3 separate regions of the Homo sapiens genome follow, and all the other regions are linked to region 1. The links come from fine-mapping of genetic effects on gene expression. A gene starts in region 1. Each other region holds a variant in brackets. All regions are shown on one strand. Distances are between the middles of the regions. Region 1 holds the start of PLPPR2 (phospholipid phosphatase related 2). Region 2 holds the start of TSPAN16 (tetraspanin 16). Region 3 holds the start of TSPAN16-AS1 (TSPAN16 antisense RNA 1).

Region 1 (10,089 bases):
GTAGGGGTGCTAGCAGCTACCACAGGTGTAACCCTCACTGTGGGCAGGGGGTCGTACCAAGCTTTGTCCATGAATTAATATATTTTACCTTTAGAACAGCCCTAGGAGGCCGGGCGTGGTGGCTCACGCCTGTAATCCCAGCACTTTGGGAGGCTGAGGCAGGAGGATTGCTTGAGGTCAGGAGTTCCAGACCATCCTGGCCAACATGTTGAAATCCCACCTCTACCAAAAAGTACAAAAATTAGCTGGGCATGATGGCACACACCTGTAGTCTCAGCTACTCGGGACGCTGAGGTAGGAGAATTGCTTGAGCCCAGGAGGTGGAGGTGGCAGTAAACCGAGATTATGCCACTGCACTCCAGCCTGGGTGACAGAGTGAGACCCTATCTCAAACACACGTACACACACACACACACACACACACACACACACAGAGAACAGCCCTATGAGTTGGGACTCTGGTGATGTCCATTTTATGAATGAGGAAACTGTGGCTCAGGAGGGTACCTGTGGTGTCCAGCACCCTGCAGTGTGGATGGGGCAGAGAGGGATTGGACCCCGGGGAGTGGCACTTCTGAATCTAAGCTCATAACCATTTCTCAAGAGAAAGGGGACAGCAAGGGAGATCCCAGAGATGGAAAAGTGGGTACAGATAAGGAGACTGAGGTTGGACAGAGACAGAGATAGGCACGCCGTCTCTGGGAGAGGTACGGGGGTCCTCACCTCCACGAAGACAAAGCAGGGGATGATGGAGAAACTCCTCTTCAGATGCGGTCTCCCTCCCGCCATGGTGAAGGCCAGGCCTGCAGAGGTGGGGAGGGAGTGGGAGTCCCAGGGGGTGTGCCTAGGGGAAGGCTCAGGTCACCGGGACCCTGGCTTCATCCCCTGAGTCCTTTGGCCACACCCCTGGCCCTGAAGACCCGGGGAGGCCCTGACTCTGTCCCTTGAACCTTCTGGCCATGCCTCTGCAATCCAGGTCCTGCCCTGTTGGTCCTGACCCTACTGGGGACACCTGCCTCCTCTGACACCACTCCCCAAGAGTCTACGGGGGTCCCTTCCTTTACAGCCTACATGGGAGGCTCTGACCCAATGCCCTTTAGGAGGTGGGCCTTTAGAAGAGACTCCCCAGCCTCATGGGAACCCCTCCCCCATGGCACTTAGAAGGGTCCCCACTAGTTTTTAGGGGACACCATCCTCTTTCCCAAGGGGCCCCCATCCCTACCAGACCCTTCCCCTGAGTCGCTTCCTCCATGGCCTCTGCAGGGGCCCCTCTCTCTGTCCCCATGGGCTGTGGTGTTGGTGTCTGGTTGGGCTGATAGCCAAGCCCTCCTTCTCTGCCAACTGCCTCTCCCTCCTTCCCCCTCTTCCCAGCCGGTCTGCCTCCCAGTTCTCCTCTTCCCTCCCCCAAGGCTACCCCCAGTCCCCAGCGCTTTAGGGCTCAACACAGTCACACCTGCTTGCATCCATTCTCCCAGCCCCATCTCACCTGTGAAAGCGCCCTATGGCTTCCCCCAGGCTGCATCCACGCCTGAAGACTCACAGCCGCTCCTGGCAGCCAGCAGGGCAGGGATGGTCACCCCCATTGTGCAGATGTGGAAACTGAGGCCCAGGCAGGCGAGGGTAGGCACTCTGGGTCCAGCACCCCAACCACGACACTCACTCTGCAGTGTGATATGGGGTGATGGTTGCCAGAGGTCCTAGATACCCAGAGTCACCCATGCTGTCACCCTTAGGAAGCACAACCCAGCCGCAGCCTCCATCCTGGCACCACACACACACACACACACACACACACACAACCATGGCATAGCGTTCACCCATCCCACAGTGAAGACCGAGCACCTGCCGACTTCCAGGCGCTGTGCTGGGCGCCACTTTGCAGTAAACAAGAGGGGCCCCCTTGTTCAGACAGGTGTCCAACACACACAACACATGTCACTGCATACTCACACACAGTGGGCTCATAGCCTGTCAGAGACACCAAACAGATCAAACAAGTCCCCACCCCCACCCCAGGCCAAACAGAGAGAGACATGTCAGGAGACCCTACACACATCACAGTCCCACACAAGCCCCCACACCGCTACAGTCAGGGACACACAGTCAGGCCTGCAACACACTTAAGAGTCACAGAAAAGAGTCACCGCACACAATGGGGGTCACAGAACTCATCACAGCGTCACACCCCCAATTACAAGGCACTCAGCGACAGCCACACACACACTAACAGTCTCTTATTCACACCAACAGTCACAGGGGAGAGACAAGGTGCCATCTACAACCACATGGCCACATCCATGGACCATGACACAGACTCACAATGCCACACAAGAAAGGTGCACAGCGCACGACCACAGCCACACACACATACACACCATCAGAATGAACACACAACAGGAGCCACACAATGACAGTCCTATGCACACAACCACACGAACACCAAGACAGTCACACACAGAGACAGCAGCCACACGGGGGGCCAATGGCAGTCACAGCATAGCCAGACACACACACACAAACCATCAGAGTGACACCCACAACGACAGCCGCACAATGACAGTGACACACACACACACACACCCGCGGACCTCCCGAAACCACACAATCCCAGTCATGCAGCCACACGATGACAGTTACACAACCACACACAGACACACAATGACAACCACACAATCACAGTTACCCACAGCCGCCCTCACCACCGGTGCTGGCTCCTCGGCCCGGGGTCCCCTCCCCCAGCCCGGTCCCCTCCCCCAGCTCGCCGCCTCCCCTCCCCCGCCCCTCCCCGCGCTGGACCCAGAGGGACCCAACCCTCAGGAACCGGAGACCGACACCGGGGGTGGGAAGCCCACGGGAGGGGATGAGGGGCGCCCCCACCCCCTCCTCTCACCGCGTCGAGGCCGCCGCCGCCTGAGCCCCCGCTCCGCCTAGACTGCCCCGGCGCGGCGGGATGGACAGACGGACTGCCAGCCAGGCTGGCAGACGCGAAGACCGAGACGCGGTCGGCCGGGCCTGGCCGCGCCGCGCAGACTCCGAGGTGGAGGGAGGGGCGGGGCCTCCGGGCGTCTCATTTGCATAGCCCCGTGGGGCGGGGCCTCCGTGATCTTGGAGGCGGGGCGTGTTAGCATCGATTGTAGGAAGGAACCAAGAATGGAAGTAGAGAGGGAGGACCCTGGGGTGGGCGGGGCTCCGAGGGTAATAGGAGGGAGGGGCTTCAGAGTATGTCCCTGGGCCGCGCCTCTCCCTCTCTGGGCCTCAGTTTCCCCATTCGCCAGGGCCCCCCAGAAAGGAAGGCTCTGTGGCCAGTGTGGAAGTCTGTCTGGCTGCTCGTGTCTGGACAGAATGACTCCTTGCCTTGTCATATATTAAATCTGGCTTCAGATGTCCCCTGATTCCAAGCCCACACATCCCGAATGACCCCTGGGGTCTCTACACCCCTCCCCCCCAACAATGAGGGGTAAACTAGGAGGGCAGGGGGATTCCTAGGCACAGGAAGCAGCAAGACTAACAGTCGGGGCTAGAGGAGGGTCTGGGCTAGTTTATTTTCTCTCTGGAGGGGTCTTCAGGGAGAGCAGTCCCGGCTGCTCAAGCTGTGGAGAGAGAGGGTGGGTCAGGGCCTGGCCAGGTCCAGGGGACTCCGGGGCTGCAGGTCAGGGACCGCATGCCCAGATCAGGATCTGGGCCTGTTCTGAGGGTCTAGACTGTGGGAGTCAAGGGCAGGTCAGGAGGGAAATGGGTGGAGGGGGGGACTGGGGAGGATCTGCACCGGGTGGGAAGGAGCGGCCGCTCTTGCTGAAAGGTGGCTGGGAGAGGTCCTGGTCACAGTCGGAGTCAGAGTCCCAGGAGGGGAGTGGAGGGCTCAGGCACTGGTGCCCCTTGTGGCCTGCAGGAGGGACAGGTTCCCTGAATGTGACCCTCAAGTAACCCCCAAATATAGGCCCTGTGTCCCTTCATAGTATACCTCATTGATACTTAAACCATGACCCCCAATTCCCTTGAATGTGATCCAGTGTGACACCAAATTATGACTTCAATGACCCTTGCATTTTACCCAATTGACACTTTTTTTTTTAGAGATGGGGTCTCGCTCTGTTGCCCAGACTGGAGTGCAGTGGCACGATTATGGCTCACTGCAGCCTCAACCTCGCAGGCTCAAGCGATCCTCCTGTCTCAGCCTCCTGAGTAGCTGAGACTACAGGTGTGCTCAGCCACAGGTGCACCATCACCCAGCTAGTTTTTAAATTTTTTGGAGAGATGGGGTCTCACTGTGTTGCCCAGGCTGGTCTCAAACTCCTAGACTCAAGTAATCCTCCCACCTCAGCCTCCCAAAATATTAGGATTACAGGCATGAGCCACTGTGTGGAGTCCCCATGGACTCATATAAGATCCAAGTGACTCTGAATGTGACCATGAATGACTCCTGGATGAAACCTCCAGTGACTCCTTAATGTGACCCCAGAACACTACTTAATGTGACCATAGAATAACACCCATCAGATGTGACTCCCAAATAGGCTCTCTGAACATAGCCTCCCTGTGAAGCTAGACAATGACCTCCCACCCCTGAGCAATTCTCAGCCTCCCTCACCTCTTAGGCTCGAGGCCTTGGGACAGGCCCCCGAGCACAAAGTGAGGCTGTCTATGGAGTTCTGCAGCACGTGCACAGCAGACCTGCAAGAAGACAAGGAGCTGGGGGCGCTGGGAGACTCCACACTGCTCAGGGTGTAGACAGCAGTACAGCTAAGGTTGGGGGCCGTGGTGGGGTGAGTCCTAGGGGGTGAGGGAAGTCTGGACTCAGGTGGGCTCCAGGTTCTGGTGGTCACTGCCAGATCCCGTTGGGGGAACGGGTTCAGAGGAGGGTCAGGGGTCAGACTGCAGGCTGGGCATCACCATATATCACTCAGTTCCTTCTGGAGGTCATCCTTCCAGCAGCCACTGGCTCCCTGCGGTATCTCTTCAGTCTCCGGACAGGCGGCTGTCTCATGACCCTGCTGCTTCATCTTGGTCAGGATCTGGGGTGGGGAGGGATGAGAGAACAGCAGTCATAATAATAATGACAATAGTGCCAGGCGCGGTGGCTCACACCTGTAATCCCAGCACTTTGGGAGGCCGAGGCGGGCAGATCACGAGGTCAGGAGATTGAGACCATCCTGGCTAACACAGTGAAACCGCATCTCTACTAAAAATACAAAAAGTTAGCCGGGCGTGGTGGCGGGCGCCTGTTGTCCCAGCTACTCGAGAGGCTGAGGCAGGAGAATTGCTTGAACCCAGGAGGCAGAGGTTGCAGTGAGTTGAGATCGCGCCATTGCACTCCAGCCTGGGCAACAAGAGGGAAACTCCGTCTCAAAAAAGAAAACAAAATAAATAATAATAATGATAATAGTAAAAGGTGACTGTTATATAGCACTTGTTATATGCCAGACTGCATTCAAGTGCACAGTACTCAGCTAATACAGACACCTGATCAGGTAGGGAGGAGTGTTTTTTTTTGTTTTGTTTTTTGTTTTTGTTTTTGGTGTTTGTTTCTTTTTTGAGACAGGGTCTCAGTCTGTCGCCCAGGCTAGAGTGCAATGGTACTATCAGGGCTCAACGCACCCTGAACCTCCAAGGCTCAAGTGATCCCCCTACCTCAGCCTTCTGAGTAGCTAAGTCTACAGGCATGTGCCACCACACCCTCTTGTTTTTTTTGTTTTTTGTAGAGACAGGGTTTTGCCATGTTGCCTAGGCTGGTCTTGAACTTCTGGCCTCAAGCAATCCAACCACCTCAGCCTCCCAAAGTGCTGAGATAACAGGCATGCCACAGCACCCAACAGGATGAGTTTTCTTTTTCTTTTTCTTTTTTCTTTTTTTTTTTTAAGATGGGAGTTTTGCTCTTGTCGCCCAGGGTGGAGTGCAATGGCACGATTTCGGCTCGCTGTAACCTCTGCCTCCTAGGTTCAAGCCATTCTCCATCCTCAGTCTCCTGAGTAGCTGGGATTACAGGTGCCTGCCACCACACCCAGCTAATTTTTGTATTTTTAGTATAGACGGGGTTTCATCATGTTGGCCAGGCTGGTCTCGAACTTCTGATCCACCCACCTCAGCCTCCCAAAGTGCTGGGATTACAGGCGTGAGCCACCGCGCCCAGCCAAGATGAGTTATTATTACATCCATTATACAGATGAGGAAACTGAGGCTCAGAGAGGTCAAGTGACTTGCCCACAGTCACACAGCAGTGAGTGGCAGAGCTGAGATTTGAACCCAGGCTCCAATCTCATGGTGGAGGCTGGCCAAAATCCCCATCCCTCCCTCTCCCACTCCTCCCCAGGGTCCCCATCTCCTCCACTCACTTTGCGGCATTTCACCTGCGTTTTCTGCATTTTCTGAATGTTCACCAAGTTCTCTGAGATCTCATCCTCCTGCGCTTCTGTGGAGGGAGGGGGCTCAGGCGGACAAAGGCTGAAGAAGGACCCCCTCCCCACACACCGGCTGTGGGCTCCAGGAACTCACGGAGCTTCTGATAGATGAAGGTCACCTCCTCCCGCACCAGTTCCAGCTCCTCCCACAGGAACTTCTTGCTGAGGGGACAGTGCAGCCTAGACCTGCACTCCCTGCCTGGCCCCTGACCTCCCATGCCCCTATCTGTGCCTCCACCCATCCCCGCAAGCTCTGTCCCCTCCCCACACTTCCCTGCCCTTTTCCCCTCCCCTTCTACAATCCCCCTACCCTCATCCCCCTCCTCTCCTTCTGATCCCCAGCCTCCCATTCTCTCAGTCTCTCCCACCCCACTCAGCCTCCTATCACCTGGCCTCCACCTCCCCACCTCCTGTCCCCCGACTTTCTATACCCCCAGTCTCCTGTCCTCTCAGTCTTCCCTGCCATCCCCCTTTCTGATCCCCTGGCCTCCTTTTCCATCCCACCTCCAGCTTTCTGTCTTCCCTGCCTTCTGGCCTCTCAGTTTCCCACTCCCCCGCCCCCACCAGCCACCTGTCTCCCCTGAGCCTCTCATCCCCTCCTCATTTTTTTTTTTTTAGACAGAGTCTCGCTCTGCCGCCCAGGCGCCCAGGCGCCCAGGCTGGAGTGCAGTGGTGCGATCTCAGCTCACTGCAACCTCTGCCTCCTGGGTTCCAGTGATTCTCCTGCTTCAGCTTCCCTAGTAGCTGGGATTACAGGCACCCGCCGCCATGCCTGACTAATTCTTGTATTTTTAGTAGAGATGGGGTTTCACCATGTTGGCCAGGCTGGTCTCGAACTCCTGACCTCAGGTGATCCGCCCATCTCGGCTTCCCAAAGTGCTGGGATTACAGGCATGAGCCACCACACCCGGCCTCATTCCCTCTTCTTGTCCCTCAGGCTTTCCACCATCCCTCAGTCCCCCTCCCCCAGGCATCTGCCATTTCCCCCATCCTGCCTCCATTCCCCAGTTCTGGGTCTCCCTTCCCTCCTGTGGACTCCAAGCTGCCCTCCCGCCATCCCCGACCTGTCCCGGATCTCCTGGGCCAGCAGCTGCAGGCAGCGAGTGGTGCGGGCCCGCTGCATCTCCTCACTGTCACGCAGGGTCTTCTCCAGCCCCTGAAGGCCTTGGGTCAGGGCCCCATACAGCTCCTGCCGGCCCTGCTCCATGCCCCACTTGTGCTCCTCCTTCTCTCCCTGGCGGCCTGTGGGGCTCAGCACCTCTGCAGAGAGTGTGGGACCTTGACTGAGCCCTGATCCCACCCTGAACCCAGCTTGTCCTAATCTTGACCCAGAACCCAGACTCTCCCAATTTCCCTCACCCTGGCCTGGCCCAGCTGATCCCAACAGGACCAGCTTCCAGCCTGACTTTTTTTCTTTTGAGATGAAGTCTTGCTTTGTTGCCCAGGCTGGAGTGCAGTGGCGTGATCTCGGCTCACTGCAACCTCTGCCTCCCAGAAAGCAATTCTCCTTTCTCAGCCTCCTGAGTGGCTGGGACTACAGGTGCATACCACCACGCCTGGCTAATTTTTGTATTGTTAGTAGAGATGGGGTTTCACCATATTGGCCAGGCTGGTCTCGAACTCCTGACCTCAGGTGATCCACCTGCCTCAGCCTCCCAAAGTGCTGGGATTACAGCCATGAGTGACAGCACCTGGCTTTTTTTTTTTTTTTTTTTAAGTAGATATGGGGTTTCACCATGTTGTCCAGGCTGGTCTCAAACTCCTGACCTCAAGTGATCCAACCTCTTTGGCCTCCCCAAATGCTGGGATTACAGGCGTGAGCCACCACGCCTGGCCTAGCCTGACCTTGATCTCTGGTCAGTCCTCACCTTCAAGCTGCTGAATCTTGATTTGCTGCAAGCAGCTCTCCTTCTCCAACATGGTCACTGAGTGGTTCAGGAACTCGAAAGCCTGGGGGAAAGAGGTCAGCCTTGGGGTGGGAGGAAGGAGGGGAGGGCAAGGAGAAACAGAGGTTGCTGGGGGCAGGGCCAAGGTGGTTCACCTTGGTCTGGGCCTGTAACTGGCTCTTGAGTGACTCAAGTTCACATCGCAGGAGCTTCTGGGAGTCGGGAATCATCACAATGGTCTTGGCTGTGGGCAGAGAAGAGGGTGAGCCAGGGCTGTAAGGGGTGGGGTCTGGGGCAAGGGCAGGGCAGAGGTCAGCAAAGGCTCAGAGTAGCAGTAGGGACAGGGGATAAGATATAGAACAGGGGCCCACTCAGCCTTGGGCAGGAGTGAATGGGTGACCATGGCAGGGGGACAGCTGATGCTGGGGCAGAGGGTAGAGGTAGAAACCAGCAGGTCTTCCCCACACAGTTTTGTTGGAAAGGAGATTTCTCACCTTTGACTTTGGAAGAGCTGGTCTCCAAGGGCTTCTAAGGAAGAGAGATGAGATGGGAGTAGAAATTTGTCCCTGAGCTGCCTCCTTGCTCACCTCAACCCAGTTTTGAGGGCTGGACAAGAGTTGGATCTCCTCAGTTCTAGGTGTCCCAAACCGTAAGTGCAGGCAAAGCTGCACTCCAGGCATATTCATGCACCTCCCCCTTGGGCTACATATGCTCAGAAGTGCACTTATGTGGCTGAGAGACGATCACAGCCAAATCCCCATGGAAGACACACAACCACACTCTTTCCTTCCATTCATTCCTTCATCCATTCATTTAAGACTTGCTTAGCCAGGGCCTGCTGAGTGCCAGGTGCTGTTCTAGGTGCTGAAGAAACACAGTGGGTGCATTCATGGGAGTCTCTCTGCCTTACAGCCCCTTCCCTAAGCCCCACAGCAGTAGATTGCAGTGGTTTTCTGCATTGAAGGGGTTTCCCGGGTGGGGGTGACCTTAGCTACGTTGTGATGCCTCTTCAAAATGTCCTGGTCATTACAGCACTGCTTCTGCAGGTCTGGACTGGGGGAGGGGGCAGCCTCATGTGGCGAAGGCCCTGAGCCCCACCCTGGCCTGCAGTCTGCAGTCCTCACTGTGTCCCCAGAAGCAGGGCATCCCAAGGTCTCTGGCTCTGGAGTCCTGGACCAGTGAGCTGTACGCTCCAGAGCCTTGTCCGAGGAAGAGCCTAGGGGTGAGGGCTTCCTTGAGGGACAGTGCAGGGCACTCCTCACATTCCCAGCCCCTCCCAGTGTCCCCAGCCCTATGGGAGCCCCCTAACTAACCCCAGTACTTGTCACACTTCATGTTAGCAGGCAAACACATGCTGGAGGGTGAGGGAGGTGAGTAGAGGCAGGACACAGAGTAGTCAGGGTCCCGGGGTAGGCCGGCCAAAAGAGGGTCGCTGTGAGTAGGGAAGCAGGGGCTGCTTTGAGATAAGTCCCCATGTCCCCAGTGCCCCCAGACCCTCCCTGACATGCCAGAGAGGCCTCAGCCCTAAACTCAAGGCTTCTCAGTTATGGTAGGAGCCAAAGCTGGATAAAAGATGATCCCAAGGCCAGACGCGGCCAGCAATGGTGGCTCACGCCTGTAATCCTAGCACTTTGGGAGGCCAAGGCGGGAGGATCACTTGAGGTCAGGAGTTCGAGACCAGCGTGGCCAATATGGTGAAACCCCGTCTCTACTAAAAATACAAAAACTAGCTGGGCATGGTGGTGGGCGCCTGTAATCCCAGCTACTCGGGAGGCTGAGGCAGGAGAATCACTTGAACCCGGGAGGCG
Region 2 (10,367 bases), 60 kb after region 1:
CAGTTTAAAACAATTCGACCGGGAGCAGTGGCTCAACACTTGTAATCCCAGCACTTTAGGAGACCGAGGCGGGTGGATCACGAGGTCAGGACTTCAAGACCAGCCTGGCCAACATGGCAAAATCCCGTCTCTACTAAAAATACAAAAATTAGCAGGGCATGGTAGGGGTGCCTGTAATCCCAGCTACTCGGGAGGCTGAGGCAGGAGAATCGCTTGAACCTGGGAGGCAGAGGTTGCAGTGAACCAAGATTGTGCCACTGCACTCCAGCCTGGGCGACAGAGTGAAACCCTGTCCCCGCAAAAAAAAAAAAAATAGGTGACACCAAGCAAAGTTGTTTGCAACACGCACAATAAAAGATTTGTGTGTGTGGGGAGGCAGTTCTGGGGTCTGTGTGCAGATCCAACTTACAAACAAGAGCGTGCCTCTGCTCTCTTTAGTCGCTCCATACCACCCGGCACAGCCAAGCAGTACCGTGATGCATCCCATCACCAGGCACAGGTTGCCAACGTGAAGGAGGTATGCGGAGGACAGCCCGAGGACATTCGTCAGAGAGGCCCCTCCACATTTACCACCAATGCCCAGGCCAACTAGGATGATGCCAGACACCTTTAGAACAGAAACCAGAAAGGAAGAAAAGTAATCTGTTAGTTGTATACAAATAGAACTGGGTGAGTGCGGTGGCTCATGCCTGTAATCCCAGCACTTTGGGAGGCCAAGGCCAAGACTTGAGCCCAGGAGTTCAAGACCAGCTTGGTAAGACCTCATCTGTACCCTCTCCCCAACAAAAAAAAAATAGCCAGTAGTAGTGCGTGCCTGTAGTCTCAGCTACTCAGGTGTCTGCAGTGGGAGGATCACTTTAGCTCATGAGGTTGAGACTGCAGTGAGCTATGACTGTGCCACTGTACTCCAGCCTGGATGACAGATCAAGACCTTGTCTCAAAAAATAAAATAGGCCAGCCACAGTGGCTCACACCTGTAATCCCAGCACTTTGGGAGGCCGAAGCAGGTGGATCACCTGAGGTCAGGAGTTCGAGACCAGCCTGGCCAACATGGCGAAACCCTGTCTCTACTAAAAATACAAAAATTGGCCGGGCGTGGTGGTGGGCACCTGTAATCCCAGCTACTCAGGAGGCTGAGGCAGAAGAATCGCTTAAACCTGGGAGGTGGAGGTTGCAGTGAGCTGAGATCATGCCACTGCACTCCAGCCTGGGTGACAGAGCAAGACTCCGTCTCAAAATAAAATAAAATAAAATAAAATAAAATAATGTCATAGGACAGGGATTAGCAATTTTTTTTTTCTGAAAAACCCAGATGTTGTGGCCTCTGCAGGACTTAAGGTGTCTGTTGAAACTACGCAGTTCTATTGGTGTAGCCCAAAAGCAGCTGTTCACAATCTCCAAATAAGTGAGCACGGCCATGTTCCAATAACACTTTATTTTGTATTATTATTTTTTAAATAGAGATGGGGATCTCACTATAGCTGGTCTCGAGCTCCTGGCTCAATGGATCTGCCCACCTCGGCCTCCCAAAGTGCTGGGATTACAGGCATGAGTCACCACAGCCGGCCTTAATTCTCTTTAAAATGTTACAAGTGAAGAGGAGGAGTGATATTTCATTTCCTTCTCTTTCCTGGCAGCTTTTCCTTAGACTATGCTACAATGAAGACAATTACTTCTTTTTATGTTTTTATTCTTTTATTTTTTTATTGAGACAGAGTCTCGCTATGTTGCCCAGGCTGGAGTGCAGTGACACAATCTCGGCTCACTGCCAACCTCTGCCGCCCAGGTTCAAGCAATTCACATGCCTCAGCCTCCTGAGTAGCTGGGATTATAGGCACGTGCCACCACGCCCATCTAATTTTTTTGTATTTTTAGTAGAGATGGGGTTTCCCCATATTGACCAAGGCTGGTCTTGAACTCCTGACCTCGTGATCCACCCGCCTTGGCCTCCCAAAGCGTTGGGATTACAGGCATGAGCCAGCGCCCCCGGCCTGACAATTCCTTAGCAATGTACATTTCGGGTTACTTTTACGGTAAGGAAAAAAATGTGACAAATTTAAAAGATCAAGAAAATAACCCTTTCTCCTGGCCTTCCCAAACAACTTGGTCGGCTACAGGATTTGACTTAGAGCCAAGCTCTTCCATCACCCACCTGGGCTCCCCCAGATCACACTCATCTGTGCTGGATTTCACCAGCTCTCGGTTGATGGAGGTCCCCACGCTCCCTGCTCCTCCTCCTCCGTCTGCCCTACATCCCTCCTGCTTCTCCAGGGAACCACAGATCTCGATGCCAATTTGGATCAACTTATTTCTGTCTTTCAGGGAGCTGACTGTGGAGGAAGGGCTGCAACAAACCAGGGGCCTGGATTGTGACATACTTACAGCCACGAAGCCATTGAGTAAAGATAACAGTTTCTTCAAGGAAGAATACGGAGTGTGGATTTCAGCCATGCTGAACAGACTGGGGCACCCTGAACATTTAAGTTAACATCTTCCTGAACCTCTGGGCTACTGTTTCCCAAGATGATAGGGATCTGAGGAAGGGGCGCCAATGCTGACTTGCTCTGCCCCTCTGTGTCCTGGCTGCCTGATGGTTGTCCAAGGCGGCCCAGCAGCTGCCCCCTGCCCTGGTCATAAGCCTTTTATCACATCACAATTGGGTTCTGGAGCAAGGCTCATGGTCCAGGGAAATCAGGTGCCCCAAACTGCCCCCTGTTGGCTCCTCATCCTTCAAACAGGTCACAGCAGGGAAAGAGAACAGGCATGGTATGCTACCCTGGTACCCTCCAGATGCCACCAGGACCCTGTGGGCATAGTGCCCAGAGCTAACCACTTGCACAGTTGACATCTCCTAGTAGACTGGGGGATCCAAGCGGGGGAGGGGGGAACTTGGGCTGTCCTATTAACAGCTGTGACCCCTGCCAGGCGCAGTGGCTCACACCTGTAGTCAAAGCATGTTGGGAGGCGGAGACGGGCGAATCACCTGAGGTCAGGAGTTTGAGACCTACTAACAATACAAACAATACAAAAATTACCTGGGTGTGGTGGCACACGCCTATAATCCCAGCTACTTGGGAGGCTGGGGCAGGAGAATCACTTGAACCCAGGAGGTGGAGGTTGCAGTGATCTGAGGTCGTGCCATTCCACTCCAGCCTGGTTGACGGAGTGAGACTCTGTCTCAAACAAAACAAAACAAAAACAAAAACAGCTGTGTCCCCAAAGCCTGGCACTGCAGTACTTAAGAAACCCGCGGAGAATGAATGAATGGATCCAGAGGCTCTGTGATGCAGAAATCTAGCTACAAGCCACCGGGCCTCCCAAGCCCAAGCCCATACTTGGCCCATCCTTCATACAGGGCTCAGAGAGGCCAAGGGAACTGCCTGAGGCCACACAGGAAGCAAGACCAGGCTTTGAAGCCCCAAGAGTAACATGAGGGCAGGAACCTGTAAGGCAGAGAGTCCTGGAACTGTGAGCCATTGGTCACTGGGTTTTTTTCTTTTGAGACAGGATCTTGCTCCATTGCCCAGGCTGGAGTGCAGTGGTGTGATCATGGCTTACTGCAGCCACGACCTCCCTGGCTCAAGTGATCCTCCCACCTTAGCCTCCCAAGTAGCAGGTCATTGGGCTTTTCTCCATGGTGATAGATGTAGTTAGCATTTCAGGACCAAAAACCTTCTGTATGTCAGCACTGAAGACCTCCAGGCCTAGATCCTGCAGTCTGTAGCCCACTTTGCCCCCATACCTCCCCACCCTAACCATAGCAGCTTCACATTGCCCCACCCCGATCCCCTCTCTGTCCAGCCCTGGGCTGGGGTGTGTCTGGGTCCAGGTCCTGCATGGATTGGGGGAAGGCGGATGGTTCAAATGGGAGAAAATACCTTACACTTTAATTAATTTAATGAATGTCTGTCAAATCGCCTGCTTCTTGGAACATGTAGAACTAAGCAAGATGTTCACAGAGGAGTGCTGTCTCCTCCTGGACCACGGGTGCTGTTCACAGCCAGGAGTGTGTCCTTCCACACCTTTATTTAAGAGGTCATTTGAAGCCAGGCGCGGTGGCTCACGCCAGTAATCCCAGCACTTTGGGAGGCCGAGGTGGGTAGATCACGAGGTCAGGAGATCGAGACCATCCTGGCTAATGCAGTGAAACCCTGTCTCTACTAAAAATACAAAAAATTAGCCGGTTGTGGTGGCGGGTGCCTGCAGTCCCAGCTACTCGGGAGGCTGAGGCAGGAGAATCTCTTGAACCCGGGAGGCGGAGGTTGCAGTGAGCCGAGACCACATCACTGCACTCCAGCCCGGGAGACAGAGGGAGACTCCTCCGTTTCAGGAAAAAAAAAAAAAAAAAAAAAAGGTCATTTGAAGTAAGGAACCTCAGAACCAGGGGCTGAGGGCCTGGAAATGGGGGCACAAAAGAGGGTGATAAATGGGCATGCAAGAGAGCATTGGAAAATGTAGGGGGCAAAGGAGGTCTGGGAAATGTGGACTCAAGGGAAAGCAGGAAAATGGGGGTGCAAAGGAGGGTGCAGAGAAGGGGGACGCAAAGATGCGAGATGGAAACTTGGCTGCAAATGAGCAGTGGGAAAACGGGCTTAAAGGACGGTGGGAAAATGAGGCTCAGATACAAGAGAGCTGGGTGAGTAGCAGACGGCGCTGTAGACGTGGGAGCAGCTCCTGGAAGGAACTGGCCGGAAAGGAATCTGGGCCGGCTGCACGCAGCCCCGCCCCTCGACCGCCCCAGCCCCTCTACCCTCCCAGCTTCTCTGCAAAGCCGCATCTACAGCCTCGCGCGTCTCCTGGCGGCGGCCCGTGGAAGCGCGGCCCTACGTGCCGGGGCTGGGCCAGGACTCTCCCTGCCAAACACGTCCAAATGTGCCCGGGTGCCCCAGGGACCCCGCCCAGCCGGTCA[G/A]CGTCAGGAAATGAAGCAAGAATAACTTCCCGTGCCCCAGATTCCTACATCACACACCCACGGAACTTTGCAGGCATCCGACGAATTGCAAATGCAAGATACTTGCTTTTTTTTTTTTTTTTTTTTTTTGTAGAGACGCGGTCTCGCTATGTTGCCTGGGCTGACCTCTAAGTCCTAGGTTCAAGCCATCCTCCTGCCTCGGCCTCCTAAAATGCTGGGATTACAGGGATGAGCCACCGCGCCCGGCCAGGACGTTTAATATCATTGTCAAAATCATAGAAGGGCCACTCCAATACACCCTTATGGTGTGTTGAGACATTTATTTCTCCACATGCTTGGTCTCCTTTTTTATTTTTAGGGGATTAAAATTGTTTAATTTTTAATTATGTGGGCACATAGTAGGTGTACATATTTATGGGGATGGGAGATATTTTTTAAAAAGCACAATTAACCAGCCGGGCGCGGTGGCTCACGCCTGTAATGCCAGCACTTTGGGAGACCGAGACGGGCGGATCACAAGGTCAGGAGATCGAGACCATCCTGGCTAACACGGTGAAACCCCGTCTCCACTAAAAAAAATACAAAAAAAAATAGCTGGGCGTGGTGGCGGGCGCCTGTAGTCCCAGCTACTCGGGAGGCTGAGGCAGAAGAATGGTGTGAACCCGGGAGGTGGAGCTTGCAGTGAGCCGAGATCGCGCCACTGCCCTCCAGCCTGGGCGACAGAGCGAGATTCCGTCTCAAAAAAAAAAAAAAAAAAAAAAAATCACAACCAAAAAATGAAATGTGTTGAATACAATCACACACAGAATATTTATGTCAACGACCCATATTAGTCAACAAACTCTCCTCTTTTTTTTTTTTTTTTTTAATTTTCAGACGGAGTCTTTCTCTGTTGCCCAGGCTGGAGTGCAGTGGTGCGATTTCGGCTCACTGCAACCTCTGCCTCCCAGGCTCAAGCAATTCTCCTGCCTCAGGATCCTGAGTAGCTGGGATTATAGGCGCAACGCCACCACGCCCGGCTAATTTTTGTATTTTTAGTAGAGATGGGGTTTCACCACGTTGGCCAGGCTGGTCTCAAACTCCTGATCTCAAGTGATCCACCCCCCTCGGCCTCCCAAAGTGCTGGAATTACAGGCGTGAGCCACCGTGCCTGGCCTGAACTCCTCTTCTTAAATTCATGTGTTTGTTGTCAAGGGCAACAATTGGGTGTTTGGGAGCACTGAACAACAAATAGTGAATGAATGAGACCTGAGCTTGCGCCCACCCTTCAAGGTCAGAGAGGAGCGCGGCAGTAGGTTCGCCTGCTCACTTGTTCATGTAAACTTTGCGGCAGAAATGTATTTGTTTACGCCTCACAAAACCTAGATCCATCCTTGACAAAGGGGCATTTTATGGTTTCAGGTATTTTAATAGCCATCGTTGGGGAAGGAGGCAAATCAGAATCCACCATCCAAAAAAAAAGTCTGGGACACACAAAAGAAAGGTGTCTGTCCTTGCAGAGGCTGGTCCACACCTTTGGCATCAGTCACTTGTTCTAGGAGTTCCCAGGTTGTGCACCTCAGCCCTCACTGGGGACAAGCACAGAAGTGTCACCAAGTTTCAGCATCAGGGGCTGACGTCATTGTGGCAGGAGAGGAGCATGATGGTAATCATTGCTACCAAATGAAAAAAAAACAAACAGCATTTCCACCATTAGGGATTTTTTTGTTTGGCTGGTTGTTTTTTAAAATTGCATTTGTTTCCCCATGTTCACATTCTGCCTTAGGGTTAACACTTTGTGCTCTGTATGGTGGGTTGGGAGGCACTGAGGAGTGATCAGAAGACCCCTGTCAGGCCAGGCACAGTGGTTCACACCTGTAATCCCAGCACTTTGGGAGGCCGAGGCGGGTGGATCACCTGAGGTCAGGAGTTCAAGACCAGCCTTGGCCAACATGGGGAAGCCCCGTCTCTACTAAAACTACAAAATTAGCTGGATGCGGTTAATTACAGGTGGGCACCTGTAATCCCAGCTACTCAGGAGGCTGAGGCAGAAGAATTGCTTGAGCTGGGGAGATGGAGGTTGCAGTGAGCCGAGACCGCACCACTGCACTCCAGCCTGGGCGACAAAGCGAGACTCTGTCTCAAAAAAATAAAATAAAATAAGAAGACCCCTGTCCTACAGGGACACTCACTGCTTTCCCAGTTCCTCTCTCTTGCTACATAAAGAAAGATCTGCAATTTCTACCCCTTCAGCTACCTTAGCTTCTGGCTGGAAAAGAGGGAAGTGAAATTAAGGAGAACCAGGAGATGGGTTTTTGTTTGTTTGTTTGTTTTTTGAGACAGGGTCTCGCTTTGTCTCCCAGGCTGGAAGTACAGTAGTGTGATCTCAGCTCCCTGCAACCTCACCCTCCTGGGCTCAAGCGATCCTCTCGCTTTGGCCTTTAGAGTAGCTGGGACCAATGGCACGTGCCACCACGCCCGGCTAATTTTTTTATTTTTTGTGGAGACAGGGGTCTCGCTATGTTTCCCAGATTGGTCTCGAACTCCTGGGCTCAAGCAATCCTCCTGACTTAGCCTCTCAAAGCGCTGGGATTACAGGTATGAGCCACCACACCCAGCCAAGATCCTTGATAATATTAAAAATATTTAGTATATAAGGTATACCCAGGCAGTGATGAGAAGGGAGGGTTTCAGGGGTATCAACCTTGAAGGGTTAGGAGGACTGGAGGGTCCTGATGAGAGTTCAGGAAGCAGCGAGTGGCCCCAGACCAGTGCATGCAGGTGACACATCTCGAGGGGGCTTCTGTTCTTGTTAGCATGGGGGATCGGGTTCTAATTCCCTCTGTTGTCTGGGCAGCTGGTCCCAGGGTGGCCAAGACTGTTCCCATCCCATATTCCTCAAGTATCTCACTTAAACACATTGAAAAGGTTGGCCAGGTGCAGTGGCTCACGCTTGTAATCTCAGCACTTTGGGAGGCCAAGGCAGGCGGATCACTTGAGGTCAGGAGTTTGACACCAGCCTGGCCAACATGGTGAAACCCCGTCTCTACCAAAAATGCAAAAATTAGCCGGGCATGGTGGTGCATGCCTGTAATCTCAGCTACTCAGGAGGCTGAGGCAGGAGAATCGCTTGAACCCGGGAGGCGGAGGTTGCGTTGAGCCGAGGTCTTGCCACTGCACACGCCAGCCTCGGCAACACAGTGAGACTCTGTCTCAAAAAAAAAAAAAAAAGACCTCATAAATAGCTTTTGGAGATTTTATTACAGGCGGACCTGTAACAACCGCAAATGGACTTTTAAAACCTTGTGGGGAATGTTTCTCCTTCTAGGAATTCCTACTACAGATTTATTCAAATGCACATAGGCCAAGAGCTGGCAGATTTTTCTGGAAAGAGCCAGAAAGTAAATATTTTCAGCTTTGCGGACCATACCGTCTCTGTTGGGACTCTGCTATTGCAGCCATAGAAAATATGTAAATGGACAATATGTAAATATATGTAAATGAACAAGTGTGACTCTGTCAAAATAAAATGTTATTTATAATATGAGATGGTTTTGTTATTTACAAAAATGGGTGGCAGAATGTAGTTTTGCTAATGCCTGCTCTTAAGCCTCGCTTGACTTGTGAATGATTGGAAACAACAACTTAAGTGCCCTTTGTTTTTGTTTTTTTGTTTTTTTTTTAGACGAAGTCTCACTCTGTTGCCCAGGCCGAGGGCAGTGGTGCAATCTCAGCTCATTGCAACCTTCATTTCCTGGGTTCAAGCAATTCTCCTGCCTCGGCCTCCCCAGTAGCTGGGACTACAGGCATGCCCCACTATGCCCAGCTAATTTTTGTATTTTTGGTAGAGACAGGGTTTCACCATGTTGGCCAGACTGGTCTCGATCTCCTGACCTCAGGTGATCCACCTGCCTCGGCCTCCCAAAGTGCTGGGATTACAGCCGTGAGCCATCGTGCCCGGCCTTAAATGCCCTTTGAAAGTATTAGTAGCTGATTAAGTATAAGATTGTCCAACTAGAGGAAAAGATGCTCAAAAGCTGAGAAAATGAATGCAGAAATCTTTGTTGCTTTTTTGCAGACTGGATCTCACTTTGTTGCTCAGGCTGGAGTGCAGTGATGTGATCATAGTTCATTGTAGCTTCAAACTCCAGGGCTCAAGTGATCCTCCCGCCTCAGCCTCCTGAGTAGCTGAGACTACAGGCACACACTACCGCACCTGCCTTTTTTTTTTTTTTTTCCATTTTTGGTAGAGACAGGCTCTAGCAATGGTCTTGAACTCCTGGACTCAAGTGATCTGGCTGCCTCAGCCTCCCAAAATCCTGGGATTACAGGCATGAGCCACCACACCTGCTCAAATTCTTAACTAAAAGAATTGACAACGGGAGCCAGGCGCGGTGGCTCATGCCTATAATCCCAGCACTTTGGGAGGCCAAGGCTGGCAGATCACTTGAGGTCAGGAGTTTGGAGCCTGGCCAACATGGTGAAACCCCGTCTCTACTAAAAATACAAAAATTAGCTGTATGTGGTGGCAGGCGCCTGTAATCCTGGCTACTTGGGAGGCTGAGGCAGGAGAATCATGTGAACCCGGGAGGCGGAGTTTGCAGTGAGCCGAGATCACGCCACTGCACTCCAGCCTGGGCGACAGAGCGAACTCTGTCTCGAAAAAAAAAAAAGACAAATATTGCATGATTCCACTCATTTGAGGTCCCTAGAGTCATCAGATTCATAAAGACAGAAAACAGAATGGTGGGTACCAGGGAATGGAGAGGAGCGTGGGGAGTGAGTGTTTCATGGGGATAGAGTTTCAGTTTGGAAAGATGAGAAAGTTCTGGAGACGGATGGTGGTGATGGCTGCACAGCGATGTGAATGTGCTTAATGCTGCTGAACTGTACTTTTCTTTTTTTTTTTGAGACAGAGTCTTGCTCTGTTGCCAAGGCTGGAGTGCAGTGGCGTGATCTTGCGATCTCAGCTCCCTGCAACCTCCATCTACTGGGTTCGAGCAACTCTCCTGCCTCAGCCTCCTGAGTACCTGGGACTACAGGAGCGTGCCACCATGCCCGGCTAATTTTTGTAATTTTAGTAGAGACGGGGTTTCACCATGTTGCCCAGGCTGGTCTCAAACTCCCGACCTCAAGTGATCCGCCCACCTCAGCCTCCTAAAGTGCTGGGATTACAGGTGTGAGCCACCACACCCGGCCTGAACTGTACACTTAAAATGGTTAAAATGACAAAATTTTAAGTTATATATATTTTGCCACAGTAGAAAAGAAATAAATGTTGTAAAAGGAACAGGACTACAAGGCCTCCTGGTGGGAATAGAGGGAAATGACTCGGCCCGGTACCTGCTAATGTTCTCGCAGTTCCTGTAGAACTTCATGTCCAGCTCTGGTTACCGTGAGCACCACAGTGGGTTAAGTCATGTCACCACAAAATTCATATCCATCTGGAGCCTCAGATGAGACCCTATCTGAAAACAGG
Region 3 (8,979 bases), 28 kb after region 1:
CGCGCCATTGCGTTCCAGCCTGGGTGATGGAGTGAGCCTGTATCTCACACACACACAAAAAGAAGATTGGCATACAAAGCAGGACACAGAATTTGATCCCAATTTTTTTTTCTTTTCTTTTGTTTTATTTTTTTTTTTGAGATGGAGTTTCGCTCTTGTTGCCCAGGCTGGAGTGCAGTGGCACAATCTTGGCTCGCTGCAACCTCCGCCTCCCAGGTTCAAGCAATTCTCCTGCCTCAGCCTCCCGAACAGCTGGGATTACAGGCATGTGCCACCACGCCTGGCTACTTTTGTATTTTTAGTAGAGATGGGGTTTCACCATGTTGGTCAGGCTGGTATCAAACTCCTGACCTCAGGTGATCCGCTGCCTCGGCCTCCCAAACTGCTGGGATTACAGGTGTGAGCCACCACGCCTGGCCTGATTCCAATTTTGTAGGAAAAAAAGCCAGACACACATACATGTGCACACACACATCCCCTACAAACCTAACCCCAACAAATGACATATTTATATAGAAAAAGACTAAAGGCTGGGCATGGTGGCTCATGCCTGTAATCCTTGCACTTTGGGAGGTCAAGGCAGAGGATCACTTGAGTCTAGCAGTTAGAGACCAGCATGGGCAACATGGTGAAGCCCCACCCCTATAAAAAATACCAAAAATCGGCTGTGTGTGGTGGCACACCCCTATAGTCCCAGCTACTTGGGAGACTGAGGGGGGCCCAAGAGTCAAGGCCGTAGTGAGTTATGATTATACCACTGCACTCCAGCCTGGGCAACAGAGGGAGACTCTGTCTTAAAAAAAAAAAAAAAAAGATGAATAAAGACTAGAAAGCTAAATAGCAAAACGCCAACAGTAATTGTTTCCAAGTGATGAGATTACAAATTACTTTTATCTCTATCTCCATACATTTCTTTGTGTTTTTGTTTTGAGACAGGGTCTCACTCTGTTGCCCAGGCTGGAGTGCAATGGCATGACCTCAGCTCACTGCAGCCTCAACTTCCCTGGCTTAGGTCATCCTCCCACCTCAGCCTCCCAAGTAGGTGGGACTACGGGTGCATGCCACCACACCTGGCTAATATTTATTTATTTATTTATTTAGAGATGGAGTCTTGCTCTGTTGCCAGGCTGGAGTGCAGTGGCATAATCTCGGCTCACTGCAACCTACACCTCCCGGGTTCAAGCAATTCTTCTGCCTCAGCCTCCTGAGTAGCTGGGACTGCAGGCACGTGCCACCACACAAAGCTAAATTTTGTATTTTTAGTAGAGACGGGGTTTCACCGTATTGGCCCTGGTCTCGAACTCCTGACCTCGTGATCCGCCCACCTCCGTCTCCCAAAGTGCTGGAATTACAGGCGTGAGCCACCACGCCTGGCACCCCCCAACCTTCTTCTTTTTTTTTTTTTTTTTTTTGAGATAATATCTTGTTCTGTCACCCAGCCTGGAGTACAATGGCACAATCTCGGCTCACTGCAACCTCCGCCTCCCAGGTTCAAGTGATCCTCCTGCTTCAGCCTCCTAAGTAGCTGGGATCACAGGTGTGCACCACCATGGCCAGCTAATTTTTGCATTTTTAGTAGAGACGGGGTTTCATCATGTTGGCCAGGCTGGTCTCAAACTCCAGACCTCAAGTGATCCGCTCACCTTGGCCTCCCAAAATGCTGGTATTACAGGCGTGAACCACCATGCCTGGCCTTAATTTTTATATTTTCTTTAGAGACTGGGTCTTGCTATGTTGCCCAGGCTGGTCTCAAACTTGTGAGCTCAGGTACCCACCTGCCTCAGTCTCCCAAAGTACTGGGATTATAGGCTGTCTTAATACTTTTCTGTAGTTTCTAGTTTCTCCAGTAAATTTCTCTATTGAATGACATCCAAAAAATGTATTTTTTTTCCTTTTTAAAATTTTTATTTGTTTTAGAGACAGGGTCTCCCTATGTTACCCAGGCTGGTCTTGAACTCTTGGGTTCAAGTGATTCTCCTGCCTTGGCCTCCTGAGTAGTTGGGATTACAGGCGCATACCACCACGCCTGATTAATATCAGAAAAATAAGCTGGGCACGGTGGTTCATGCCTGTAATCCCAGCACTTTGGGAAGCTGAGGCAGGTGGATCATCTGAGGTCAAGAGTTCGATACCAGCCTGGCCAAAATAGCGAAACCCTGTCTCTACTGAAAATACAAAAATTAGCCTGGCATGGTGGTTCACACCTGCAGTCCCAGCTCCTTGGGAGGCTGAAGCAGGAGAATCGCTTGAACTCGGGAGACGGAGGTTGCAGTGGGCTGAGATCGTGCCGTTACACTCCAGCCTGGGCGACAAGAGCAAAACTCTGTCTCAACAAAAAGAAAAATAAAGAACACAGATGGTATGAGGCAAAGCCACGCGTGGATAAGGAAACACCAGATTTGCCCAGGAAGACAGTGGGATGGCTTTGATATCTCTGGGCTGACAGTAGGAGATCTAAGTTCATGTCCTGCCCCTGCTATTGTTCATTTACCCATTCATTCATTCAACCATTCAGCAGACAGTTTCTAAGCACCCTCTCTGTGTCGGGCACTGGGTACAGCCATGGGCGGAAATCCTGCCTGCCTGGAGCTGGCTTTCTAGTAGCGGAGACAGATAATAAATGGGTAATTACACAGCTAACTCATTATGATTCCATTTTCATAGTTCAGCATGACGCACAGAGAAGACAGGTCCACTTACCCTTGGCCACGTGTAACGTGGCAGGCGTTTGTCTGAATTCCTGGCTTACCTTGGTGATGTGGCAGGTGGGGCTGCATGGAGATTCAGGGACAGCTCCTCTCAGGCAGACCCTCAGGAACCTTAAAAGGATGCAGGAAGCCCAGCGTGGTGGCTCACGCTGGTAAACCCAGCACTTTGGGAGGCCTAGGCGGGGGGATCGCTTTAGGCCAGCAGTTCAAGACCAGCCTGCGCAACATAGCGAGACCCCCACCTCTACAAAAGAAAAAATTGAAAAATTAGCCGGGCATGGTGGGGCACACCTGTAGCCCCAGCTACTCAGGGGGCCAAGGCGGGAGGATCGCTTGAGCCCAGGAGGTTGAGGCTGCAATGAGCCATGTTCATACCACTACACCCCGGCCTGGGCAATAGAGAGAGACCGTTTCTCTTTTAAAAAAAGCAATGGAAAATGTGACTTGATGGGTCTCCTGACCATGCCTTTCTGTGCAGCAGAAATTGGGTGGAAGCTGAGCTATAGCCACCTGTGGGCACTGCCATGGCCGCAGGGCAGCAGAACTCTTCATGTACCCTCCCACCTATACTCTTGCAGCCACTGCCTTGTGACAAAGAGATCTTAGGATTGTCCAGACCATGGCTGCAGCCGCAGGGTTTCGTTTTGTTTTGTTTTTGAGACAGGGTCTTGCTCCATCACCCAGGCTGGTGTGCAGTGGTGTGATCATGGCTCACTGCTGCCTTGACCTCCTGGGCTCAAACCATTCTCCTGCCTTAACCTTCCGAGTAGCTGAGACTGCAGGTGAACGCCACCATGCCCCTCTATTTTTTTTTTTTTAATAGAATCTCGCTCTGTTGCCCAGGCTGGAGTACAGTGGTGTGATCTCAGCTCACTATAACCTCCGCCTCCCAGATTCAAGCAATTCTCCTGCCTCAGCCTCCCGAGTAGCTGGGATTACAGACGCGTGCCACCATGCCCAGCTAATTTTTTGTCTTTTTAGTAGAGATGGGGTTTCACCATGTTGGTCAGGCGGGTCTTGAACTCCTGACCTCAAATGATCCTCCCGCCTCGGCCTCCCAAAGTGCTGGGATTATAGGCATGAGCCTCCTCACCTGGCCGCCCATCTACTTTTTAAAAAAATTTATTGTAGAGATAGGGCCTTGCTATGTTGCCCAGGCTGGTCTTGAACTCCTGGCCTCAAGCGATCCTCCCGCCGTAGCTTCCTTTAGTGCCAGGATTACAGGCATAAGCCCCTGCGCCTGGCCTGCCACAGATTTTTATCATTGGTAGGATCATCATTCCCATTTTACAGGTGAGCAAACTGAGGCTTGGAGTGGCAAAGGCACACAACCAAGGTCCCACAGCAGGATAAAGAGCAGAACTAGGCTTAGAAGCCAGGTTTCTGTGATGCCACAGCTGAGACTCTGCCCTCAGGGGTCTTACGAGTGTCCCCACCTTAACATTCATCCAGGTTTCGAGTTCTTTGAAGCCAGTGCCAAGGAGAACATCAATGTGAAGCAGGTCTTCGAGCGCCTGGTGGATGTCATCTGCGAGAAGATGAACGAGTCCCTGGAACCCAGCTCCAGCTCAGGCAGCAACGGGAAAGGCCCGGCCGTGGGGGATGCTCCAGCCCCCCAGCCCAGCAGCTGCAGCTGCTAGAGATGGCCCCCAACCCCCCACCCACCCCTCTCCTGCCTCGGCAGGGACTGTGATCGAGGCGTGAGCCACAGTGGTTATCTCCAAGCTCAGGGCAATCCCTTCCCTCCTGTCAACTGCTCCCCGACTCCTGCATGGCTCATTCCTTCACAATGTCGCCGTGGCTGCCAGGTTCCTCAGGCAGCCCCGGTGGGAGGCTGCGGACCATGGGGACTCAGCTCTGCATGGCAGGCAGAGGCCCAGGGACACTGACGTGCATGAGCTTGCTGCTTTCCAGGGTGTGTTGAGGGTGGCCATGGGTGACACGTCCCACTCTTTCTGATGGAGGGGCATCCGTGGTGCCTTCTAGCTTAGAACCATTTTCCAGGTCTCTTCTGGGTTGGGCAGGACTGATATTCCCAAGCTGGTGGAAGATGGTTCATCTTCCTCGCACAGTGTGGGTTCTTGGAGTTCATCCAGGGAAGGCGGCGCCTCTTTCTCAGGTCCTGCAGGCTGGTCTCTGAGCCTGCCCCCACGAACTTTCTGGATTCCAAGGTGGGATGGTGATCCCTTTGACCCCTGCAGACCCTCTACTTGCGAAAAGCAGCATTGAAGCAGCCTTTTCCCATTGTAGAAGGGACAGGGAGTCAGATCCCCTCAACCCCCCGGCTTCAGGGACCCCAGAAGTGCCTTCCAAGCTTCCCCCAAGATCCACATCACCCACGACCCTGCCACTGTTTTTGCTGTGTTCACCACATCTCTGATCCTGAAGTGAATTCTGGAACTATGGACCACATTAGACTGGGCAGAGATTCGCCCAACCCCTAGCACTCCGGCTCTGGGCTTTCGGCCAGAAGTTAATTAACCTCAGAGCCAGGAGCCTGGGGCTGGGGCCTCCCTCCCAGGCCCTGTTTAGCTGTTTAGCTGGTTGTGTTTTAAGCAAGTTCTTGCCCAATCATGCATCCTGCTAGAAAAGGAAATGAAGCAACGTTCCCAGCCACCGCAGGCAGTTGTCGGCGACTTTCTGATGTAAGCACCTGGGCTCCGACTTGAGGGGGGCCCTTCAAGACCCAATGTCCATTTCCCAATCCTTGTCATCGGCAGGGCCCAGGGATGTGACAATTTTTGCTAATGGAGGAGTCACTTCTTTTTTTTTTTTTTTCTTTTTGAGATGGTCTGGCTCTGTCACCCAGGCTGGAGTGCAGTGGTGCAATCATAGCTCACCACAGCCTCAAACTAGGGGTCACTTCTAAGGGATGCTGGGGGTTGGGCGGAAGGGGTGAGGAGGTAGGA[T/C]TGAGTAACTTGCTGTCACTGCTTGTACTTTGTAGACAGCCTGAGAGTGGCAGGACCTTATGTGAATGGGGGGGATGGACTGTGATCAGTGCCGGGGAGTCTCTGAAGCTGGGGTCCCCACCTCCAGGGGCTTCTGCTCAGAGGTTACGTGTGCAGTTTGAAGATGTACATCTTGACCTCCGGTTTAGAGGCACTTTCTGCCCATCAGATTCCAAACTCTAGGGGCGCAGCACCTTTTCTTTGCTCCCAAACACCAACCAACACCCCTTCACAGGACCAGCACTGTTAGGATGGCTAAGTGGATGTTTTATGTTCCCACGTCCCTGACTCTGTTTCAGAGGTTGTGTCTGCTCTCCCAGCCCCTGAAGCCAAAATGACTTCCTGCAGCTTTCATGAGCTCAGCCTCTTCCCTGGGGTATGTGTGAGGGGGAAAGCCTGGTTCAAGTTTAGATTTATTTCTAGGGAGCCCTGGTTTCTTCATACCAGAGGCTACCCTTAGAACTTTGGAGTGGGGTATCTTTTTTTCATTTGTTTTTTTGATACAGAGTCTCGCTCTATTGCCCAGGCTGGAGTGCGGTGGCACAATCTCAGCTTACTGCAACCTCCACCTCCAGGGTTCAAGCGATTCTCCTGCCTCAGCCTCCCGAGTAGCTGGCATTACAGGCACCTGCCACCACACCCGGCTAAATTTTGTATTTTTAGTAGAGAAGGGGTTTCACCATGTTGGTGAGGCTTGTCTCAAACTGACTTCAAGTGATCCACTTGCTTCGGCCTCCCAAAGTGCTGGGATTACAGGCGTGAGCCATCACGCCCAGCCGAGGGTATCTTTTATACCAACAAATTAGATGACTGAGGTGTAATGGACAAATCCTATGCACAAAGTGAGGGTATCTGAATATGTGGGCGGGAGTCAAAAATTTTTAGCTACTTTAACACTAAAGTCAAACTAAAGTAGCTTCAAAAAGACTTCTCAAGATGCAGTATGGCCTGCTGAGGTTTTTTTGTTTTTTTTTTTTTTAAGACAGAGAGTCGCTCGTCGCCCAGGCCGCAGTGCAGTAGCATGATCTCAGCTCACTGCAACCTCCACCTCCCGGGTTCAAGCGATTCTCCTGTCTCAGCCTCCTAAGTAGCTGGGACTACAGGCACCTGCCACCACGCCCATCTAAGTTTTGCATTTTTAGTAGCGACGGTTTCACCTTGTTGGCCAGGCTGGTTTTGTTGGCCAATTGTCTCTAAACTGCTGTCAAAAAAAGGAATGGATCAGATTGTCTTGAATAGGGCAGAGCTAACCTGTAATCACCTGTGTGATGAGAAACAGCTTTGACTGCATTTTACTCCTGACCTGGCCTAAGCTTTCTGTTTACATAAGATTTTTCAAGAATTCAACTTCAAGTAGCAGCCGAGAGAGCTGCCTCAGGATTCTCTCAAAAACTGGGAATAATATGGGAACATTTGTTTCTTCTAAAAATAAGGCAAATGTTACATTGAATGATTTGGGGGGTGAGGTTTAATTGGAAATGGTCTCTGGGGACTGAAAACTGATGTTTTTGCAGATTACCTCAGGGAAACGGAGGTTTGTTGAGTTTACAGACACATTAAACCAAAGGCCGTGGGAAAACCCCTCTCCAGCTCCAGGGGATTGGTCAGGACCACCCACTAACCAGTGCCTTCCTTCTTAACATTCACTTTTAGCAGCTTGTGTTTATTTTACATGGGCAGTTTTGATGGGAAATTGCCATGACCACAGGGGTTTGGAGTTCTGCTTTTTTTTTTTCTTCTTCTTTTTCGGGGGACTGGGGGACTCCTCCCAAGATCACATTTTAGCATCTTTCTCTCCTACTCCATTTAGAAAAATAAGTAACAGGTGAAATGTGGTCTCAGTGTTAACGGGATAATTCTGCTACCGGCTCCTCCCTGATGATTCTGAAATACACTACTGAACGAGCTCTGGCTGGTCCTTTCTATCCTGGATGTGGTTCTTCTGTGTAGCAATTCCTTGATGTCCAGTTTGGAAAGATGTACTCTTCTCAACAAGAAAAACTTAAATCCGTCGTGCCCAAATATAGTTGTGCTTTTATTTCCATTAGTGAAGTGCGTTTCTGGGAAAGGGGGTTTGATTTGCAACTAAGCAGATATCAGTCAAGGGCTCTTCAAGACACAGCAGAAACCTCACCGGGCCTCGGGCTGCCTCCCACTGGGTCCCATGGCCACCACCTTGACCTTGGAAAGCTCTGTTATATGGAAGGTAGGGAGGACACTATTTCCCTCAACTACTTCTAGTAAAAAGCTCAGTTCTCTCCCCAGCAGCAAGAGGGCACCTGTGAACACCTGAGTCACAGCGCATTCCTCCTCTGCTTAGAACATTCGATGGCTCCCACCTTACTTGCAGTAAATGCTGAGGTCCTTCCTGTGGCCCCCGGGGCCCTGCATGATCTGATCCATCCCTTCCCTACCCTCATCTCTCCACTGGCCTCCCCACACTTGCTCCCCTCCGGCCACTCTGGCCTACTTGCTGCTATCTGAACATACCAGGCCCCTGCCCCAAGGCCTTTGCCCAGAATGTTCCCCCTGCCTCTGCCTGGATGGCCCTTACCCAAGGTAGTCACAGTTGATATGGTTTGGCTTTGTGTCCCCACCCAAATCTCATCTGGAATTGTAATCCCCATAATCCTCACGTGTCAAGGGAGAGACCAGGTGGAGGTCATTGAATCCTGGGGGCGGTTCCCCCATGCTGTTCTCCTGATAGCAAGTGAGTTCTCACGAGATCTGATGGTTTTATAAGGGATTCTTCCGCCTTCTCTCGGCTCTTCTCCTTCCTGCCACCTTGTGAAGAAGGTATCTGGCTTCCCCTTTGCCTTCTGTTATAATTGTAAATTTCCTGAGGCCTCCCCAGCCATGTTGAACTGTGAGTAAATTAAACCTCTTATGTTTTTTTGGGTATTTTTTTGTTTTTTTTTTTTTGAGACTCAGTCCTACTCTGCCACCCAGCTGGAGTGCAGTGGTGCCATCTTGGCTCACTGCAACCTCCGCCTCCCAGGTTCAAGCAATTCTCCTGCCTCAGCCTCCCGAGTAGCTGGGATTACAGGCACACTCCACTACGCCTGGCTAATTTTTGTGTTTTTAGTAGAGACGGGGTTTCACCACGTTGGCCAGGCTGGTCTCGAACGCCTGACCTCATGATCTGCCCACCTTGGCCTCCCAAAATGCTGGGATTACAGGCGTGAACCACCGTACACGGGCAAACCTCTTTCCTTTATAAATTACCCAGTCTTGGGCAGTTCTTTCCAGCAGTAGGAAAACAGACTAATACAACAAAGCTCCCCTAACTGAACTTCCTCTTTTGGGCTACTGTGCAAATCTCA

What was found. PIP is the estimated chance that this variant, and not a neighbour inherited with it, causes the effect.
Region 2: its variant is fine-mapped to the expression of PLPPR2 in whole blood (TOPMed, PIP above 0.99).
Region 3: its variant is fine-mapped to the expression of PLPPR2 in blood mononuclear cells (TOPMed, PIP 0.97).

What each region holds. Positions count from the first base shown.
Region 1 is chr19:11,348,374-11,358,462 of GRCh38, reverse strand. It overlaps PLPPR2 (phospholipid phosphatase related 2), which reads right to left and starts at 3,031. Exons shown (of 10, transcript NM_001393892.1): 1 at 2,891-3,031; 2 at 1,487-1,661; 3 at 724-803. The coding sequence starts at 789. CCDC159 (coiled-coil domain containing 159) reads right to left here. Exons shown (of 11, transcript NM_001080503.3): 2 at 8,776-8,809; 3 at 8,437-8,525; 4 at 8,264-8,345; 5 at 7,460-7,655; 6 at 6,490-6,557; 7 at 6,330-6,406; 8 at 4,891-5,012; 9 at 4,589-4,671; 10 at 3,767-3,883; 11 at 3,519-3,590. The coding sequence ends at 3,586. RefSeq lists enhancers at 1,178-2,119, 7,493-7,993 and a silencer at 2,762-3,211.
Region 2 is chr19:11,288,382-11,298,748 of GRCh38, reverse strand. It overlaps TSPAN16 (tetraspanin 16), which reads right to left and starts at 2,589. Exons shown (of 7, transcript NM_001282509.2): 1 at 2,383-2,589; 2 at 410-607. The coding sequence starts at 2,451. RefSeq lists enhancers at 1-54, 55-556. The variant G/A (reference allele first, on the strand shown) is at 4,910.
Region 3 is chr19:11,320,767-11,329,745 of GRCh38, reverse strand. RAB3D (RAB3D, member RAS oncogene family) reads left to right here. Exons shown (of 5, transcript NM_004283.4): 5 at 4,161-7,678. The coding sequence ends at 4,348. TSPAN16-AS1 (TSPAN16 antisense RNA 1) reads left to right here and starts at 8,421. Exons shown (of 3, transcript NR_187778.1): 1 at 8,421-8,522. It also overlaps a transcript of TSPAN16 not described here. RefSeq lists an enhancer at 5,289-5,498. The variant T/C (reference allele first, on the strand shown) is at 5,618.